3 linked regions of the Homo sapiens genome follow. The protein of the gene in region 1 interacts with the protein of each later gene in a biochemical or structural test. Each region holds a gene or a part of one and is shown in the gene's direction. Other genes may lie near its edges. The genes, in order: RIC1, RAB33B and RGP1.

Evidence for each region.
Region 2: the proteins of RIC1 (region 1) and RAB33B form a complex in vitro, tested with the Homo sapiens proteins (one study listed by IntAct).
Region 3: the proteins of RIC1 (region 1) and RGP1 form a complex in vitro, tested with the Homo sapiens proteins (one study listed by IntAct).

The regions. Positions count from the first base shown.
Region 1 is NC_000009.12:5,758,099-5,765,207, forward strand, and holds part of RIC1 (guanine nucleotide exchange factor subunit RIC1), read left to right. Parts: intron 1-4,442; coding exon 4,443-4,562; intron 4,563-5,041; coding exon 5,042-5,770; intron 5,771-7,109. UniProt on the Homo sapiens protein: The RIC1-RGP1 complex acts as a guanine nucleotide exchange factor (GEF), which activates RAB6A by exchanging bound GDP for free GTP, and may thereby be required for efficient fusion of endosome-derived vesicles with the Golgi compartment.
Region 2 is NC_000004.12:139,449,823-139,457,171, forward strand, and holds the start of RAB33B (ras-related protein Rab-33B), read left to right. Parts: upstream 1-4,298; 5' UTR 4,299-4,354; coding exon of another isoform or gene 4,355-4,373; coding exon 4,374-4,622; intron 4,623-7,349. UniProt on the Homo sapiens protein: The small GTPases Rab are key regulators of intracellular membrane trafficking, from the formation of transport vesicles to their fusion with membranes.
Region 3 is NC_000009.12:35,752,287-35,759,194, forward strand, and holds the end of RGP1 (RAB6A-GEF complex partner protein 2), read left to right. Parts: intron 1-364; coding exon 365-588; 3' UTR 589-813; coding exon of another isoform or gene 814-994; 3' UTR 995-1,373; coding exon of another isoform or gene 1,374-1,482; 3' UTR 1,483-1,713; coding exon of another isoform or gene 1,714-1,843; 3' UTR 1,844-6,299; downstream 6,300-6,908. Other genes in the region: MSMP (prostate-associated microseminoprotein precursor), read right to left, coding at 814-994, 1,374-1,482, 1,714-1,843. UniProt on the Homo sapiens protein: The RIC1-RGP1 complex acts as a guanine nucleotide exchange factor (GEF), which activates RAB6A by exchanging bound GDP for free GTP and may thereby required for efficient fusion of endosome-derived vesicles with the Golgi compartment.

The DNA.
Region 1 (7,109 bases):
CAGTCTGAACTTGGGCAGTGAAAAAGGATATGGAAAGAAGTAGAATGAGTATAGAATAGCAAGGGCTTTATAATTAGTTAATTATGAGGAAAGAGAAAGTATAATCCCGTAGTTTCTGGGTAAAGTAACAGGGTAAGAAGTAGGGCGACCAGGACCCACGTTGCATAACTTTCTATTTCAGTGGTTTCTAAACTTCATGTCAACTGGGAACCTACTGTCAGAGGAAAATTCTATGTGGATTTATTTGTCATCCCTGTCTGGGCAGTCTGTCTTTTACTTCCTATCGAGGCACTTCGATCAAACCTCAACACTCCATAAAATAATTAGAAAACAGACTAGACTAGACTATCCAGTTATGGGGAATTTAATATTACTTATATGAATCTAAAATCAATTTTGTTACCTTCTATCCCAGTTCTCTATTCTTTGTAGAAGACATTGTAAAAGCTAGTCCCTCTTCCACATGATGACCCGTAAAATATCTGCAGACAGTTAACATTCCTTGGCTTCTCCTTCTCTCCTCAAACCTCTCTGTCATCTTATCTGCATGCTAAATACTTCCATATGTCCAACTATTTCATTGGATGTTTATTCTAGACCCCTTAAGCATCTTGGTCTCCCTTCTTTTTTTTTTTTTTTTTTTGTCCTTTTTTCTTTTTTTTTTTGAGATGGAGTCTCACTCTATCGCCAGGCTGGAGTGCAGTGGTGCAATCTTGGCTCAGTGCAACCTCTGCCTCCCAGGCTCAAGCAATTCTCCCGCCTCAGCCTCCCAACTAGCTGGGACTGCAGGTGCACGCCACCACGCCCAGCTAATTTTTGTATATTTAGTAGAGACAGGGTTTCACCATGTTGGCCAGGATGGTCTCAATCTCTTGACCTCATGATCTGCCCACCTCGGCCTCCCAAAGTGCTGGGATTAAGGGCGTGAGCCATCGTGCTCGGCCTTGGTCTCCCTTCTATAGGTAAAATTGGTTTTCTCCTTTAAAATATAGTTCCCATTTCCTCTGCAAACCTTATTTAATGGTAACCAGTTAGTCCTAATTGATAAGGGAATATACTGTTTTACAGAAGTTTAGATAAAAGGTGTGAAAAAAAGTGACAATTTAAAAATCATTTTGCAGTCCTGAGGAACTAATCAGTCTTATCACTAAAAATGGGAAAACCAGATATGGTATGCTTCTTGAGGTGATATAACATGAAGTTCACAAGAATTATTGCCAAAAATCTTGAACCCAAATCAAATCAAGTATAGAGAGTCATCTTCCCTACCACAAGGGAGCAGAATACAAGACATTCTGTTGGACAGCTACAAGTCACTAACATGGGGGAAGAAGGAGTGAATCTTCTAGATTAAATAAGACTTTGAAGCCATAAAAACCAAATGCAGTGGTTAAAAGTCATTTGTGAGGCAAATGTGATAATCACTACCCTGCAGAACCAAGTCAGTAAGCTCATTTGTATCTTCATTCAAATCAGCTATGAAAAGACACTGTTGAAACAATTAGGGATATTTAAATACTAATGGAGAGAGAAAGTAGGGAATAATTGTAAATTTTATTGGATGTGATACTAGCATTGTAGCTATGTTAGCAGATGCCCATATATTTTAGGAATGCATATTAAACATGTAGAAGTAAAATGGGTAGCATGTCTTAATTGAAAATATTCTGACAAAACTGAAAAAAAAATAAGGGATGGATGGAGCACATAAGGCAAAATCTTGATAATTGTGAATCTGGATAATGGCAGTGTGAAAGTTCATTATACTATTCTCCATACTTTTAATCATGTTTAAAGTTTTCATATTTAAAAAAGGACTCTTATATATCCCAGATAGAGTAGGCAACCAGTGGCATCAGTAGTCCTGGATACCATATTTTGAGAGGGCCTTTCACAAAGAGAAGGTGCTTAATTTGGCTAGAGCAGATTAAGAAGTTAAAATTGACTGATTACCATAGAGGGAAGACAAAGAATGCTGGAGCAAAGTAAGTTTTCATTTAATACTAAAGTTTTCAAAAAAAATAGTAGTAACAGTGAAAACTCTTCAACAGCAAGATAGTCTCTCCATGAGAGTGAGCTCCTTGTTACTGAAACTCTCATAGAGAATCATCTGCCAGGGGTTTTTTTAGGGTAAGAGATTGAGTTTGGGGTTCCTTCAAATTTAGGATTTTGGGCATACATGTAGCCCTTGCTTTTTCTGAAAGCTTTATTAAAGTTGCTTGAGAGTGCTGTTGCAGTCATCTTTAACGTTATCAGAAAGTGTTGAATACTAAGATAGGATACTGATAATACCCACTCACTGAAGAAAAGAGAAGTGTACTTTTTTAATGAATTAGTATGAAATGTGGTGAAATCTACCATCTTAAAACTTAAGGTAGTCATTATAAACATTACTCATATTGTGGTGAATTACAGTAAATGCCTTTAAGGTCTTTTGAAGTGTTTTAGTGTATGCAGTTCCCAGTCATGCTGTTTTGCTGCAGGTGTTTGTCTTTTTCTTTTTCCTCTGCCATCTAGCTACATTTTACTGTTATCCAGGTGTCTGACTCTTCTAGTTGCCACACACCTAAATTCCATGTTCACTTCTCATACCTCCAAATTACTTTCTGGATAGATAACCAATTTTTTTATTTAGTCATTTCTTTATACATAATCCCCTGTAGAATCTGAAAGCAGTAAGCAAGAGTAGTTTGTATAGCCAAGTATTTTGCAACTAGAATATATAGGGTGGCTGCTGTTTTCTTGATGAACCCTAAATGATCATTGGTAGCTTAAATTCAGCCAGCCAGCATGCAGCAAAGCCTGGGACACAATCCCACAAGTTTTGAATACTCACTCTTTCCTCCCTGAAATTCTTTCCTTCTGTTTATATAGCATGTATAGCATTGTGCTTCCCTATTTCTCTTTTGTCTTCCAAAAGCTCAGGTGATGGCCCGCTGCTCTTTTTACCCTGGCTAGTGTGCCTGAGAAACATCTGTCTGTCTCCTTCAGTTTACCAGCCTCACCTTTTTTTTTTTTTTTTTTTTTTTTTTTGAGACGGAGTCTTGCTCTGTCACCCAGGCTAGAGTGCAATGGTGCAATCTTGGCTCACTGCAGCCTCCGTCTCCCGGGTTCAAGTGATTCTCCTGCCTCAGCCTCCCAAGTAGCTGGGATTACAGGCACCTGCCACCACGCCCGGCTTATTTTTGTGTTTTTAGTAGAGACGGGGTTTCACCATTTTGGCCAGGTTGGTCTTGAACTCCTGACCTCGTGATCCACCCACCTCAGCCTCCCACCAAATGCTGGGATTACAGGTGTGAGCCACTGCGCCCAGCCTGGCCCAGCCTCACCTTTAAGCTTCTGATGCTGGTACAGTCGTCTCTGATTTAGTGATTGCTCACATTTTTACTTGGAATTCTTAAGAATTTTTTTTTATTTTTTCAAATTAAATGAGCCAAAAAGAAAAAGGGAAACTCTTTGGTTTTCCCTTCCCTAATTTCTCTTCCTGTCTTCTATCAGTGATAATAACTTCAACTTCTCTAGCACCTCAGCTAACCTGGAAATCATCTTTGGTTCATCTCTTTTTCTACCTTTCATGTCTAGGATAGCAGTAAGTTCTGTTTTTTAACCAAAATGTTCCTTCCTCTTTACAGATAGAAATGACTTGATATCTGAGGTTCCTTTTAAAACAGGGCTGCTCAAAGTTTAATGTGCATAATGGTTTAAGTTGCGTGATAGGGCTCAATTGGAAATCATTATACTAGGCTCTCTGAGGTTTGATTGAAATTTTTCATTATAAAAAGGCAGACTATTTCCTCATTTCTGAAGTCAACACCCATGAAATCTGCCTCTCCTCAGTAACCTATCCTGATTAACTCTGATTTTTTAAATAACTGTCTTATTCAAGAACCATAAGTAGTGGCTTCTTTCCTGCTGCTCTTTTACCTGGCTTTCTGAATCCTCCTTGAAGGTCTGTTACCATCCAGCTTTGTTCTCATAATGTCCCTAGTCTAGCCAGACTGTTCTCACTTTCCCAATAGTTCCATGTCTTCGTTTTCCATTAGATTACCAACCCTTACTCTCCCACACGTGTATGTCTTCCTCATCTGTCAGGTTCACTGCATCCTTTTAAACTTTCTGTTGTTATGACAGCTAGATCACTGAAGTGATCTCTCATTTTTATAAACTTCTAAAGTTGTCTTAGCTTTTTCAGGATAATTCAACTCTGCCCTCAATCTTATGTCACTGGTGGTGTTCATTAATTGCATTATGTGTTAGGCTTTGTACCATCCTAGCCAGAAAGCTCCTTATATTCCCACAGAGCCTAGCAGAATGGCTGTACATAGTACAACCTCAATAAATAATGTAGATTGTTTGACCTATAAACCTTATGGATTGGGGGGAGATGCGGAAAGCATACCGATACAGAAGTATGAATTTAGCTGCTTTTTCTTAAATTTCAGGCTCGTGGTGCAGAGAGCATTATGTTAAACCTGGCAGGACAGCTCATCATGATGCAGAGGGACAGGTCAGGCCCACAGATCCGGGAGAAGGACAGTAACCCTAATAACCAAAGGAAACTTGTGAGTAAAGTACTAGTCATTTCTTTTCAAACATTAAGAAGGTATGGGATGAGGATGAAGGAATGAAACAATTTAAGAGAAGAGTATTTTATGATTTGGAAAGGAGAAATTAAGTCCATAAAATCAGTCTTAAGCCTCTGGGTGTAAGACTGACTGACTGGAGGATAAGGTCCCAAAATGATCATGAAATGTTCCATACTCCATATGTTAACTGCTTAGGCATCATTCATTGCAAATTCTAATGGAAAAAATAGGGATAGACTGGTGAAGTTCATGGGGTGTTTTGTTTTCAGATTTAAGTGTATATACTTTAAAAGGCCAGGATACTTTTATTAACTCTAATTCTAATTAGATCCCTTTGCTTTTCCCAAAAAAATATTATACTATCATTTGAAAGACTTAGTAAACTAGTACCTAGGAACTTAAGAACCTGCAGATTTAATAGGAAAACAACTTGATTCTTGTCTCTCCTTCTCCAGCTGCCATTCTGTCCTCCTGTTGTACTAGCCCAGTCTGTTGAAAATGTCTGGACAACGTGTCGAGCAAATAAACAGAAACGTCACCTTCTGGAGGCCCTCTGGCTGAGCTGTGGTGGTGCAGGGATGAAAGTTTGGCTCCCTCTCTTCCCTAGGGATCACCGCAAGCCCCATTCCTTCTTGTCCCAGCGGATCATGCTGCCTTTCCACATCAACATTTACCCGCTAGCTGTTCTGTTTGAAGATGCTTTAGTCCTTGGTGCTGTCAATGACACTTTGCTCTATGATTCTTTATATACTCGGAACAATGCTAGAGAACAGCTGGAGGTGCTCTTCCCTTTCTGTGTTGTGGAGAGAACCTCTCAGATCTACCTCCACCACATTCTACGTCAACTTCTGGTCAGAAACCTTGGGGAGCAAGCCTTGCTCTTGGCCCAGTCCTGTGCCACATTACCTTACTTCCCTCATGTGCTGGAGCTCATGCTCCATGAAGTACTGGAAGAAGAAGCTACCTCACGGGAGCCCATTCCCGACCCTCTGCTTCCCACTGTGGCAAAATTTATCACTGAGTTCCCCCTCTTCCTGCAGACAGTTGTCCATTGTGCCAGGAAGACCGAATATGCCCTGTGGAATTACCTTTTTGCAGCTGTTGGAAACCCTAAGGACTTGTTTGAGGAGTGTTTGATGGCTCAGGATTTGGACACAGCTGCCTCTTACCTTATTATCTTACAGGTAACAATTCTCTTCTTATAAAGGGGCAAGAATTAATGAGCTTAAACTTAGAAAAATAGAAATGTCCTGTTTTGACACCATGATTGTGTTTAAGGAATTCATAGTCAAATTTTCTGTTTATATCTTTAATTTGGAAGAATTCAGACAGATTCCTTTGAATATCATAAAGTAACATTGCAGAGATATTTTTTCCATTGTCCATAAATAGGCCTAAAACAGATTAATGAGTTCAGAGTAGTGTTTTGAAATTTTAATATATTGAAGAAATTTAATATGTATATTAGAATACATGTAATAGGAACATGGAAGAAATATTACATAAGATTATTGAAATATTACATAAGAAACATAGCAAAGAAAGTATTATTTGAGATATTAGTGAGTTTGAGCTTCTCACAACAGTAGATTTGTTTCCTTTCAGTGTGGGTTACTGAGGGGACACTTATTAGAGCATGGTCATAACAGAGCACCTTGAGCTAGTCTTCCCCAAAGCAAGCTGAGAAGGCTCAGGCCTGCCACAGCAAAGACCCTCATAGCACACAGTTTTTCTCAAAATAATGGCTTCTTTGCAACTCCTGAAAATTTATTTCATTAGCTATTTGACAAAAGGGCTTGACAGTTGGTTATTTGATAGGCTACACTTAAAGATTCTTTCCAGTTACTGCAAAGTTGTTTCCATTGATGTAAGAAGCTAACCATAAACCTGGTTTCAATCTCTGCCTGAAGCAGATTTCCTGTCAGCTTCTTTGCTTCATGACAATGAACTGAAACCAGAGGAGACACTCAAGCAGAGGCCAGGTGGCCTTGAAGTATGATTCCATGGCTAACCCTAAAGAAAAAGACATAGGGTTTTAAAAATAGAATCAAAATAAATGCAGCTGTTTTTTGGTTCCGGGTCACTCCCTGCAACTTCACTGTATCTCCCTGACAATGTAATTTTTTTCTGCAACAGAATTCCTAAGTTGCTATGGATTGGCAGATAATAATTACAATTACAGTTGTCTATTAGGCACCTTTCCATAAAGACCAAGATAGGCAGGTTAAATTTGTGAAAGAAAAATGGAGGATTCTGAATGTGCAGCAGAACTTTACTACTTGCTATTGCCCAAAGCAAAGATTCTAGTCACATCCTCAGAAAACTCTGCAACAGGAGACAGACCTGACCTATTTTGGAGTCAGGCAAACCTCCCTTTTTTTTCTTCCTTTTCTGCTGATCTTCAACAATTTACTTAACTCAGTTTCCTCACTTGTAAAATACAAATGATATGCCTATCTGCAGAGTCACTGGGAGAAATAAATGAAATGACTTAAAGTATATGTATGCTATCTGGCATGTAGT
Region 2 (7,349 bases), on another chromosome or scaffold:
ACGAGATAAAAGAGGAAACAACAGAGGCCATGATTGCACTTTTTACATATATCAAATATTGGCAAGTCTGCCATCCTAGCTTCCCATCTGCCTACAAGTGGGCAGAGCCATTTTTAACCTTTCTTACTGTGAACATACTTCAATTCACTTAGAATTCTTGAAGTCCAGGCCAAGCACCTCTAGGGTAAAATTTAGCATTCTGTTTTATCCAGGTGTTCACTAACGGTTCCATATTAATTTGCTTCTGCAGATAAAGTATAAATTCCTCATGGGCTAAAATCACACCTTATTTTGTATCTTCCCCTTGCACCAACCACTAGCATAGTACTGAGTACATAGTTCAAATGCCATTAACTCCACAGTGATCCTACCTATGAAGATATGACTTGAAGAATTCTGAAACTCATTAAGCTAACCTATACAAGGATACTAATTTACTATTTATATACTGAAATTAAAGCCCTAGTATGATGTCTGGGGTTACCAAACACAGTGATATAGTAATTTGGTGGAGGCCAGCAAGGCCAATGCCATACTTCTCAGGGTAACTGGAATTGTGTCTTCAAAGGAGAAGTAATTCCCACTATCAACTGGGAGGTACAGGGTATCAAACTTGTGAGAAGAGCCCTTCTGTAGGCTCAAGGAGTGCCAGTGGCATTCAAGGAGGAGGGAGGGAGAGGATTTTTGTCCCCAAGGGGCATCTAGCAACATTTTGAGACAGTTTTGGTTGGTGGTGGGGTGCTACTGGGATTTACTGGGTAGAAGCCAGGGATGCTGATAAAATAAACATCCTACAATGCACAGGATAACCTTCCACAACAAAGAATTATCTGACTTAAAATGTCAATAGTGCCAAGGTTGAGAATCCTTTCTTTCATAGGCAATCAAGGGAATTCTTTGTCCTCTGTGCTCAGACCTGAACTTAAAGAGTAAAATTATCTAAGAGCTGTTTCTGAGTAAGACAAGTTACGAAATGGGCACTGTCATCAGGAGGTGGCATATCTAGTTAAAAAAAAAATTCAGAAATTGAGTAGTCTTATTTTGTATATAAGATTATCCTTATGCTATTCTGTTTTCTACTTTTTTTTTTTTTTTTGAGACACAGTCTTGTTCTTGTCCCCGAGGCTGAAGTGCAATGGCATGATCTTGGCTCACTGCAACCTCTGTCTCCCAGGTTCAAGCGATTCTCCTGTCTCAGCCTCCTGAATAGCTGGGATTAAAGGCACCTGGCACCACGACTGGCTAATTTTTGTATTTTTAGTACAGATGGGGTTTCGCCACGTTGGCCAGGCTGGTCTCAACTCTTGACCTCATGATCCACCCTCCTCGGCCTCCCAAAGTGCTGGGATTACAGGTGTAAGCCACTGCACCCAGCCTGTTTACTTTTATGTTTTAGAGATGGGGGTCTCGCTGTGCTACCCAGGCTGGAGTGCAGCAGTGCAACTATAGCTCACTGCAGACTTGAACTCCTGGGCTCAAGAGATCCTCCAGCCTCAGCCTCCTGAGTAGCAGGAAGTAGAGGTGTACACAACCACACCCACTTTTTTTTTTTTTTTTTTTTTTTTTTGGAGACAGGAGGTCTCACTCTGTTGCCCAGGTTGGAGTGCAGTTTTGCGATTTCAGCTCACTGCAACCTCCACCTCCCTGGTTCAAGCGATTCTCCCACCTCAGCCTCCCGAGTATCCGGGATTACAGGCATGTGCCACCACACCTGGCTGATTTTTGTATTTTTTGGTAGAGACGAGGTTTCACCATGTTGGCCAGGCTGGTCTCAAATTCCTGGCCTCCAGCAGTGCTCCTGTCTTGGCCTCCCAAAGCGTTGGGATTATAGGCATGAGCCACCACACCCAGGTACTACTGTGTGATTTTAATATCCAATGTTTTTTCTTCTATTACAAAAGTATCTTTACATACTTATCTTACCCTAAGCCATTGAAATTGTTCCATTTTAAGTTGTACTGACAAAGGATCCAAATTTACAGTTTCTGCTCAGCTGTGTAGCAAAGTATTAAGGAAAGGGTTACATGTTCACACTTTGAGGCCAAGTGGTAGTGACTCCAAGGACAAAATGAACAGTCAAAAAACAGGGCTGTATAATCCATCCATTCTTTCCAACAGTAGAATTTCCTCCAATTATCAATTCTGGAGATTCTGGGGTTATTCAATTAAGAAGAGTAGCACATACTTCAGTCACATGAGGACACTCTCAAAATACAAGTTGAAAATACAAAACTCCTCATAACAATGTCAAGTGCCAACAATGATTTTTAAAATTTAAGTAGGGCTGAACTGTGTGTAACTGGTGAAATGTTCAAGTTAACAATCCTTACACACGAAATCTCTCACTTCACTGACTTAATTCATTATTTGCTGAATAAACAATAAACTTCCAGTCAGTAGTCAAGAGTTGGCAATCTAGCTGGTAGGACATAACATATAATCATGAAACAGCAAAAACAGTATTCAAAGATTAAATTAGCAATACCCCAAAATGTGTGTTAGAGTTAGCATAAAGAATTTCTGATGTAGTTTACCAAGAGCTAAACTAAAAAGTCCAGAATACAAAAAACAGGGATGCAATGATGTTAGTTTTTTTCACCATCCTTGAAATTCTCCCATTAACCACAGCTCTGAGTTTTCAACTGCTCTTTGTCCTTAAATCTTCAGATTCCCTCCTTTGAATGGGATAGGTAGAGCAGATTAGAAGAAATATATTCCGAGGCTCTCTAATAGTTTCTGGATGATTAACCTTCATGAAAATAACCTCACAGATAAGTAATTAGGATTTTTCAGCCCATTTCTATAAACTAAGTAAACTTTTTTTCTAGTGAACATAACTTGATATATTAGTGACTGTAGAAAGTCTTTCTACAGCAACAGGAATTATATCAAGGCTTTTGCAAATTCCTGGCAACTCCGGGCATGTTTAAGTTCTACTACTCATCTGTTCTGACTATATTTTCATCTGATGGAATAAGCAGTTCATCTCCTTTCCTAGAACTTTTAGTGCTCTACTGTCCCCCTCACTTTAGTTAAGGTCTGCCATGTCCTCCTCTCCGACAGTCCTTGACTTTCCCAATGGCATATTCATCTGCTCAAACAGATGTCACTGCAAAACAAAACAAACTTTTAACAAAAAGCAATGTTTGCATATTTGGGGCCTTTTGTATGACAATATTGCACGTTTCCTCAGAAAAATTCACGGAGATTCTTTAAGGTTGGGGGTTTAATCTATTGATATTTTCCTTAGGTAGACAAAGACAACCTCTAAGTGCGCTCAGTTAATCTTTAACCGCTACATCATCGTCACCCAGGCACTAAGACATAACTAGGGCATAATGAGTTTTATTTCCACCAGGGGCGCCTAGTAACTACCAGGTTCAACGCTCCCAGGTGGCCGACATGTGATGTGCTCTACTGTTTGGGCTGGGGATATTAGCTCAACAAACTCTGGCCACAAGGATCACGCGGATATTCTTGGGGATGCCTAGCGAAATGCGCTGTACCTAGGCCTCGAACTCTCGCCTGCTCTCCGGTGGGCGGTCTCGAACTCCAGCCTGCTCTCCGGCAGCCCACAGCAATGCGCCTGCCAAGACCTTAGGCTGCAAAACTCGCCACGGCCCAGAGCTCGCCTCCAAGTGCGCCCCGCACAGGGCAAGCTTTCGGCGAGGACTCGCGTCCCACCCATCTAGCCCTGGCCGCTGTCCCAACTCCCGCAGTTCACAGAGGCGGCGGCGGTGAGCGCAGCCGATGCCACATCCTCAGCGGCAAGCTGAAGAAACCTGTCTCCTCTCTGGGGCGACCAAACGATACGTCGATGCCGGAACCGACCCGACGCCGGAGCCGTCGGCTCCGTCCTTACCGTTGCTCTCCAGGTACACGCCCCCGTCAAAGGCGGCTCTGCGGCCCTCTCGCGAGAGAGTGCCCGTGGTACCTCCTTCCTCTCAGTTGTCTGTCTCTCCCCGCCCCCGGAGTGATTGCGCGGCTTCCTCCAGAGGGCGGGAACCTTGGACGTGGCGGGGCTGGGTCAGTCAGGGCGCTGGGCCCAGCCTCTCTGCAGGCTGGCCTTCCGCGCTGCCGTGAAGCCCCCGACAGGTCCCACGCCTGCCTAGGTAGACCGGCGCCAGCCCGAGTGACGCCTGGCGTGTGGCCGCGGGCAGGCGGCTCCGTGCGGCGGGGCGGGCGGGTGCCACACCTGTGCGGGCAAGGGCGGGGCGGGAAGGTGCGCAGGCGCGCTCGGGGCTGGTGGGCGGTGGCTCCTGGGAAGTTGCGCAGCCGAACTGGCCGGCTGGGCGCGCGCTCTTGCGGTGGCGTAATCTCTCAGCCTTTCTGTGTCTCCTTTCCTCCGCCTCAGTTTGGGGCGGGTCGGGGGAATGGCTGAGGAGATGGAGTCGTCGCTCGAGGCAAGCTTTTCGTCCAGCGGGGCAGTGTCAGGGGCCTCAGGGTTTTTGCCTCCTGCCCGCTCCCGCATCTTCAAGATAATCGTGATCGGCGACTCCAATGTGGGCAAGACATGCCTGACCTACCGCTTCTGCGCTGGCCGCTTCCCCGACCGCACCGAGGCCACGATAGGGGTGGATTTCCGAGAACGAGCGGTGGAGATTGATGGGGAGCGCATCAAGGTGAGCGGATGGGGAACTGTTGGGGAGGACAGGGTGACAGGTGTCCCAACCCCACCGTGGGCTGGTCGCTGGCCGTGTGCACGGTGTGTGTGCGCTCCATTTTTTTCTCACGCTGATGAGATTGGAGTTGGGGATTGGAAGGATTGCAATACTGCAAACTTCTAAGGCAGCGTTTCTCAGACTTCATTGTGCATGCGATTTACCTGGGGATCTTGTTTTTGAAAATGCAGGCTATGATTTAATAATCTCGCTGATGATGCAGGTGCAGCTAGTCCGTGGACCACACTTTGAGTTCAGGAGTGTAGGGCTTATCTACCGACCCATTTACTGTGTGTGTCGTGTGCTGGGAGTCAGTCAAATATGAACGGAGGAAAAACAGTGAAATTGCGCGAGAATGGAAAATTCATTTAATCAGTAATAGTTATTAAACATTCATTCGAGCAGTGCCTTAGATGTTGTGGAAGTAAAGCCTATTGCCTTTGAGGAAGTACTTAGGTATTCTCTTGCATACAGTTTTGCTGTAGTAGTTTCTTTATGATACTGATTTTAGAAAAATCTATTTTCCTGCAGAAACATTCTATATGTGATAGTTCCTACTCAGGTTGCCAAAAGCATTTCTCATGATGCCACCTCAGACACACGCCCAATTCTTTATTCCCTTTAAGTCGTTATTTTTGGTCCCTGGGACTGGGGACACTGAGTGACAGTAATAGTGGAGAAGGTAGTATAGGCCCCAGGGCAGGTTTGAAGTTCTGAGGGGTTGGAATCTAACAGTGGAATGAGGATCAATGACAAGGCTTAGGCCTCTTGATGGTATAAACCTTAGACACACCTTCATAGCAAGCCACCACTAAATGCCACCTGTTGATGCCACTCCTTAAAACATAGGTGGAACCACCTTGCCTTATACTACTGCTTTAAATCAGCGATCGTCTTTATCTCAGTCTCTTGGTGGGGATGGGGAGTGGTGGGAGAACAGGCTTGCTTTAGACGTTCCTACCCTCGTATCTTAGAGGCAAGAACAATTTATTTTTCAGTTCCCTAATCATCGCCCCCCACCCCAACGGGTTATACTGCTAATGATGGTAGAGGTGAAGTAAGCTGGGTTAAAAGAAATTAACCTTTCTTTGGTGCTTCTGTCTTTTAATTTTTCACATTAGTATTTCATGTCCCATATGAGCTCTCAGTGGTGGTTTTGGAGTTGCTTTGTATTAGGGAATTTAGAAAGATTTGTATACTTGCAGAAGAAAAGATAGAATAAAAGGCTAAACATTTTTCACCAGAATTAGGTTTGGCCCAGAAGCCTTTGGGGTGAAAAATAATGGAGCTTCTGAAGTTCCAAGGGAGTTAAGATTGGGAGAAGCAGGAATCTGGGAAGTACGTGGGCTTTGGAGCCCAACTAACCTGGATTCATATCTGAACCTACGAAAGGGTAGGGATGGGCTGCGTGTCCTTACTAGGGTGACCAACTTTGCCCAAGACTGTCCAGGTTTTAAAACTGGGTCTCACATCCCGGGGACCCCCTGTATTGGGCACACCAAAATAGTTGGTCACCCTGGACCTTAGGCAGATTCTTTAACCTCTCAGAGTCTGTATTTTTCTTCCGAAAAACTGGGATCATGATACCTTATCAGGCTGCTGTGAGGATCAGATGAGGACATATATGAAGCACCTGGTTCATAGTTGGTGCCTTTAAAAAGATTCTTTGTCTTTCCTGGTGGCTTAACATTATTTTTCCTGTTTGCCACCATTAGTTCTGCAGTTGTACACCCAAAGTTGAAAGCAGAGATAGTGGAGGGCATAGGTAGACAGCTAAGGGGAGAGAAATTTAAAAAACAAAACAAAAACAAAAACGGAAGTAGGAAATTCTTTCAAAAGTGGAGAGAATGAGGGTGGGGGAGGAGTTGGGATTTGAGGGCCCTTTATCTGTTCCTGGGTTGCCATTTATACTTAAAGATAACAGATGAATCAGGTGCAAATTTAAGAGATAATAGTATTGAAAAAATATAAAGCATGTGCAGTGTATAAAGTCAATTACCTAACTACTGAGGTGAGTGCTGGCAGTGATAAATAAGACAGAACCACAGGTATGACGAATCTGGGAGCACAGAGTTGATAATTCTGGTTGGGAAGAGCAAGGAGATGATATTTTTTGGGGAGATTATTTCTACTGAACTTTAGCCTAACTTGTTACATTGATATGGACTTGAATACTGAGATCATTTTTCTTCTAAGGCCCTAGCCGTTGATTTGTGCCACCAATGGTGAGACTTGAGAGAGATTTTTATTGTGGTTGAAATGACTACAGACATGTTCTGAGGTTTCTATAGTAGGAAAAGATATAGCTATGTTGGGCATTTTTTAAAACCACAGAGCTTAATTTTTTTTAGTGCCCTTTTTTTCGAAAACTGAAAAGTGATATAAAGAGCTTTATTCTATGTGCTGCTTCTGCTGCTTTTTGGTTAACCTGTAATACATCTTGAGTGCTGCTGAAATGTTCATATTACGTCTTTGGAAAATTGTAGCCTGATCTAAAATGACATTTTTCCTAATTTTTCATCTCAAAGCTGGAAAGCTCTATTACTTTACTAGTAAAATGCCATTCTAGACATTATTTCTTTGATAAAAATGAGATATTGCGTTAAATGTTTTGATAATCATGGACTAGAAAATTTTCAGAAAGCATGACTTAACAACAGTGCCCTTTCAGAATCCGTTAAAATGTTT
Region 3 (6,908 bases), about 30 Mb from region 1:
CCTTCAACCTCTTCCTGTTTCTTAGATGCACTGACCCCTAAACTCCTAACAGCTTGATAGAACTCCTTCCCCACACCTACCTACTAGGACCCTGTGATACACTGATTTTTGATTACTTCATGCTACCTAGACTTGACTGCCTCACTCTTAGGTTATTAGGTACTTAATACTGCTATCTTCAGCTCACATCTGTGGTAGTACCCATTGCTTCAGAAAAACCCTTAATCACAGCTCCCTGCCCTGTGACTTTTCCCTGTCTTCCTGAACACAGATTGTTTTCTTCTCATTCACTAACTATATCCTGTCATTGGCTTTTACTCCTGCTAGCTTCTGATGCTTCTACCTTAATCTTTTTCTTCCATAGTGTCCTTGAAGTGGAGATTGCATTTTGAATTTGTAACGTCCCGAGAACCAGGATTGGTACTCCTACCCCCTGTGGAACAGCCCGAACCTACCACCTGGACAGGACCTGAGCAAGTACCTGTAGACACCTTCAGCTGGGACCTGCCCATCAAGGTGCTGCCTACTAGCCCCACCCTGGCCTCATATGCTGCCCCAGGCCCCAGCACCAGCACCATAACCATCTGAAACTGGCCCACCCTGGTGCTAGTTCCTTCCGGATACTGAGAACTCAGCACCTGGACTCTAATGGGACCCACTTTTTCCACCTGGGGTCCAATGTCGTGGACAGTGAGAGTCGGGCTTTCAGCTATAGCATTAATTTATTTGTTCAGAATACATTGGCAGCTGCTAGTGGTTTCCCTGGAAGTGGCAGCAGCAGTGAGCAGTCAGCAGATGGATGATCAGTTGAGTTTAGCTGGAGTGGGGAGCAGGAGCCCCAGGAACAGGGGTGTTGGCTGAGCCCCATTCTGGGTCAGGCCCTCCCCCTTTGCAGGGCAGCCGAGGGTCAGATTTTTGCACCAAGGAGAACTGGCAGGTTCCTGCCTCCTGACGTACCTCACACCCAGCCGGGAAGTCGATGGGATGCTGGGACCTGGGGAACCAAGGATAGGGGAAGGAGTCAGCACAGTGAAAGGCTGCCTTTATCCCTGCCCACATGTTCCCTCTCTCACAGTTTTCCCCCCACAGAGCCCCTTTCAGTGGCCCCTTGGTCCTCCTAACTAAGCTGTCACCTACCATATGTGGGCCTTTTTGTTTTATAACAGGAGTATTTTCTCTCCAGGTCCACCCCAACCTCCCCTGATTTATAGCCTGAAGCCTTATCTTTCACACTAGTGTTGGTCCCTTCAGGTTTGGCCCATCTTGTATTGCTCTTCTGTTCATTCTTACATCACAGCAATCTAGTCACTCCCTGGTCATCCCTCAGTCACTCATATCAGAGTCATTCTCTCTGGCCATCTTTGGTCACTCACGTGTCACAGCAGCCCACGCCAACAGGATGCAGACAGGTGCAATGGAAACAGTCCTTGCGGAGCCAAGACTCACCCAGGGTAAAATATTTCCCCTCATAGTGACAGGGGGCTAGGGAAGAACGGGAAATGTTAGTAGGTGTAGGAGTGCTGATGAGAGGCAGAGGCTCTTCTGGTCTGGGGTGGAGACAGTAAGTACGCACTATCCCCGTATTTAGTTTGTCTTTCCTGTTTCACAGCTGGAGGAAGCCTGGGTATTTTGACACGGGATCATCTGTAAGGCCCCATCCTCCCTGTGCCCTCTCTGCTGCTCCTCCATTCCTAACGCTTCACCCCACTTTACCTTGAGCTTGGAAGTAGCACTTGCTGTAGACTCCTGGGTGCTGGAGGAGTAGAGACATCACCAAGCAGATGATCCCCCAGCCTCCTAGGATCCCCTTGGCCTGTCCAGCCCAGAGCATCCTTAGGGCCATTGCTGCTGCACAGCCCTCTCAGACCCTTCTTGGCCTCTGCTCAGCTACTCTGGTCTTGACTCCTTGACTTTGCTTTGCGTTGCTCCTTGAGTCTTAGTTTCTGTCTTTCTCCCCTGGGCTCCTGTCTCACACTATCTCCCTGCCCTCTGCTCTCACAGGCTGGGGATGTTTATAAAGTGAGGACCCTGGCCCCCTGCTGAGTAGAGCTGGAAAAGTTGTAACTCTGTTTCCTGAGGTGAGGGCATGAAAACAAGAGGTCTAGCTTTAACAAGCTGTGAGAGCTGATTCATGCCCCGGCACAGCTAGAGGGAGGGAGGTGGCCATGGAGGGGGCACTGGACTGGGCACTTCCCCAGCAAGGAGGCAGGAGGGGCGAGGGCCCCCAGGTGGTCCCCAGATCTCTTCCCTGACCTGGAGAGAAGGAAGCATTCCACCTTCCCCCTTTCTCCCCCACTGCCACCACCAGGGGTGTGTATGCTGGGATCCCTGCCTGGACCGGAGGGAGGCATTTCCTGGGGATGGTTAATCCTGTGCCCCAGCCAAACCCAGGAGCTGCAATAGGGTGCGACGGCCAGAAGCTCCAGGAGAGTGAGCAGGCACCTGGAGTGGAGACTGTGTTTCCCTCAGATCCTAGGGCAGGGTTTCCCTAATGTATCCAAGAAATAGGGCTGCCCCTCAGAGATGGTGGGGAGGGTCTCTTTTCCTCAGGCATTCCAGAGGTGAACTGTCCATTGCTTATCACCTTCAAACATACAGCAGATGTGGGATCACCCCACATCTGGGGATGGTTCTTTCCCCTTTCAAAGAGGAGCATCTCTAAGTGCCCTGATGGGATGAATCACTCCAGGTTCACAGAGGTGTCCTCTCTTTCCTCCCATATATAATGGAGTGAGGTTTTTAGGAATTTATCATTTGGCATCCTCTGAGTTTCCCACAGGTTCTGGAGGAGCCCAGGATGGATTATTGAGAGCATGGGCTGTAGAGACAGTCTTCTTGGATTCAGATCCTGACTCCACTTAGCTATGTAACCTGGTCAGATTACTTCACCTCTCTGAGCCTGTTTCCTCATCTATAAATTGGGGATAGTAATGCCAACTCATTGGGCTGTTATGAGGATTACTGAGATAATGCGTGCAGTGCTCTTATCACCATCTCTGGTGCGTAAGCGTCAGGAAATAGCAGTTGCTGTGATTGGGGCTAAAGCTCTGAGGCAAAATGGGCGACATTATTTTCTTTGAATGACATTAAGCAGTTTGTGCATAGCTGAGGGCTTCTATTGGGGATGGCTGTCTCCTGGCATAGACCTCTGCACCTTTCACACTCATACTCCTTGTCAGCAGTCCCCAACCTTTTTGGTACCAGGGACCGGTTTTGTGGAAAACAATTTTTCCACCAGTGGATGGAGGGGGATAGCAGCGGGGAGATGATTTTGGGATGAAACTGTTTCATCTCAGATCATCAGGCATTAGATTCTCATAAGGAGTGTGCAATCTAGATCCCTTGCATGCGGAGTTCACAGTGGGGTTTGCACTCCTGTGAGAATCTAATGCCTCTGCTGATCTGCCAGGAGGAGGAGCTCAGGCGGTAATGCTCACTCGCCTGCCGCCCACCTCCTGCTTTGTGCTCCCGCTTCCTAACAGGCCACAGACTGGTACTGGCCTGTGGCCTGGGGGATGGAGACCCCTAATCCATGTCACCTTTCCCACCTCTTTCAAAAACAGGTACCTCCAGGAACATTTTGGTTTTGGCCCTTGTATTGACTTCTGAATGTCTAGTTTGAGAAACTGTTCCCAATAAGCCTTCTTCCCCCAGATCTGCACCCTCGCCTCTACCCTAGGACAAGATGTCCTTTTCTCATCATCCTGCCAGGCTAACTTTAAGTCTCCTGCTTTTTCTCACTTGGATTTGGATCCATTTCTTCCTATTTCCGCTCATGTGAACTCTCCAGTTCTCCTTTCTCACCACTCTCCTGCTAGCCATCTCTTTGGCACTAAAGGCCCTGGTCAAATTGGATTTCTTTCATTTTTCCACACTTCAAAGACCCATGTTCTAGGTATTCTCCATAGGGATAGTCTCTTTGGCATTTATTTGGTTTTTCTACGTTTTCAGTCCCATTTACTCCAAGACTCACTCCCTGCCACCTAGTGCATCAGATACAGCTACTTCTGGCTGACTTTTCAAGGGGGACCACCCTACCTGTCATCTCTTCACTGTTCAGAAATGACTGTGTCAGTGCACCTCAAACTCCCTTGCTGTCCTTTTCCAAGGAGACAGCTAAGGTGGATGGAGATGCAGAATGGACCTCACGTTCGCCCTAGTCAGGACTGATACCCTTTCCGTTTCAGAGGATTGCCAAGAAAAAACTCACAGTTGAGGCAGGGTGCTCTGAGGTCGGCTGCGGTGTGGGAGGCACGGCCTGGGCCTGCTCTCTGGGCTGGAGCAGGTGGATTCGAAGGCCTGTCTAGCACGAGGGCCCAAAGGTCTTGTCAGTGGCCAGTAGCTCTGCCGCCTTTCCCAGAGAGGGGGTCCAGGGGACATCCTGGAAGGCTGGGCCCTGGGCCACCTTCTGCTCTTGCAAGCTAGAGCCAGCCCAATAGGGGGCGGATGTGAGTGGGGAGCTGGGGCGCATGAAGGTGGGGGTGATGCCGAAGGGGAAGGGATCGCCAGTGGGGATTGGTGCGTGTGCGGAAACGGGGACAGAAGTGAAGGTTCATCGCCTATAACGAAGATGAGGTAGGCATATAGGGGCTTCTGGAAAGCTAGAGGCTGGGCTGAGCCAGGAGTCCTCTCCCAGAAGTTGGGGGGCGGTGCAGAGGTGTGGGTCGAGCCCGCATGCGTGCCTGCTGGGGAGGGGGTGAGTGGTGAGGACCAGGCCCGCTGGGTCCTGGGGGCGCGGTGGCTGGCGCGCAGGTCCCGGAGGGGGCGGCTGGCGCGCACTACACGCTTGGGAACAAGGAAAACATCCGCCGGAGGCCCGGCCGGGCGGCGCTCCAGCCTCGGGGCAGGTGCGCGGAGAGGAAGTGAGAGCATTCCGGCCCCCCCACCCCAACCCCGGCCGCTGGCCCTCTGGTGAGTCACAGCCGACCCCCGCCGCCGGAGGGAGAGGGGAGCTGCGGGCCAGAGCCCCGGAGGGTCTGGAGGAGCCAGGAGGGTTTCTGGGAGCAGAGGGTCACTTAGTGGGCTTCTGTCGTGGTGTCGCTACGGGCGCGAAACGGACACTGAACACAGTCTGACTGTATGGAGGCAGGTGGGGAGGGATCCCCTGGGAGAACTTGGCGGGCCGAGAGCAGACCCCAGGGCAAGGAGGGGCCCCCGAGGGGGAAACCGGGAGTCGGGCAGGTGGCGTAACCCAGAAAGGGAAGGAGAGCCGGATTGATTGGGGTGAGAGAGGAAGGAAGCACGCCAAGTTAGGCCTGGGAGAACTGAGGGACCTGAGGAGGGAGGAGGGAGACCAACACAGGGTGGGAAGGCGGAAATGGCCAAACCCCAGGCATCAGGTCTGTCCAGAGGCTGACGTAGACAGTGAAGGGTGAAGGGTAGGTTTTAGGAGTAGGGGGAGTTATGATTATTTGGTTACATTTTGGGATTATTTGGTCTCACAGGTAGAAGGGAGCCTGCTGGTCTCTGTGTAACGGATGGCTTAAAAGCAAGGTTGTCTGCGTCTTGGATTACTGTCTGCCATTCAGCCTTTGCCAAAAAATTTGGCACTGATCTGCACATTTTTATAGTCATTTAAAATTGTATGACTCTGTCAAATGATTTAAGTAATTTTGGTGGATTTTTAAAAATAAAAAAATAAAAATAGAAAAGTTGCACAATCTAATTCAATATTTGACTTAAAACCAAAAGTGAGGCTCTCAGATTGGTAATATGGTATTCAGCCTTTTTCTTGTTTGGCTTTTGTGCCATTTGCCCCTCACTGACTTGATTGAATTCTTTGTGGCTGATGCCTCAGTTTTTCTGGATCAGTAGTGCTGCACTTCCACTTTTCCTCTCCCTCATTTTACTGTCTTTATTTTTAGCCTTTTTTCTGTGTAGCCCTCTAACCTGCCCTTTATATTTTGAACCAAATAAAACATTTCTTGGAATGGGAGCTTTGGACTACAGTATACAGACAAACAACTCACAATTTTAGCATATGAGGCTACTATCTTCTGTGGATGTGTATGTAATTATACAGTTTCTGTATTTATCCTGTGGCTGATAGAAAAAGTTAAAGCTGTTTAATTCACCATAGTATTTCTACAACACAGCAATTTATTAGTCTGACTTCTCTTCTAAAATCAACTCTAAAATGGTATTTTGTACTTGTCTCAGAGACGAATTCTGCCATGATCCTTATGATCTGTGTTATGTTGGGCCAAAGGTGATTACTTTATAAATTATAAAGATCCCTAAACTCTGCATTGCCTTTGGTCCCAAACAAGCAAATCTGGGTCAATTAATGAAAAAAAAAAGAAAAGAAAAGAAAATGTCTTACTTTGGGCCCTGTTGCACTCTCCCGTGCTGTTTTAGCCCCAGCCCTACTCTATTCCCAGTGGCCTTTGCCTTCATTCCTTCTTTGCTCTGCTGGGCATCTTGAGAGGAAAACTTCACACCGACTTCCTCTACTATAAATTCTCTCCCTCCTCTCAACTCTACACTTCTCTTTGCCAACATACACCACTACTGCTTCACTGATTTTTTTTTTTTAAGCCCACAGTCCTTTCTGGCTCTTTTCCACCTTTAACACTCTTATGTTGAAATCTTCCGTTTTTCCTCCTTTCTCTTTAGTAAGACCTCAGGTTTTTAAAAAAGCTAGGCTTGATTGTTTATTCTGCATGGTCCACTTCTGCCTTCCTTCCTCTTCTATTACCCTTTTCTTATTCTAGACTGTTTTTAAACTCAGTTATGCTTGCTTTCACCAAAGCCTTAACCTTTCCTGTGATTAGAAAAAGATGCTTATGTTTCCATTACTTTTCCTACAAGAAAACGCATTCTCAAATTCATATCCACTTCAAACTCTCCCAACGTTTTGCATCCAGAAGCATAAAGTGGCCATTATTGTGAAGTCCACTGAGTGACCA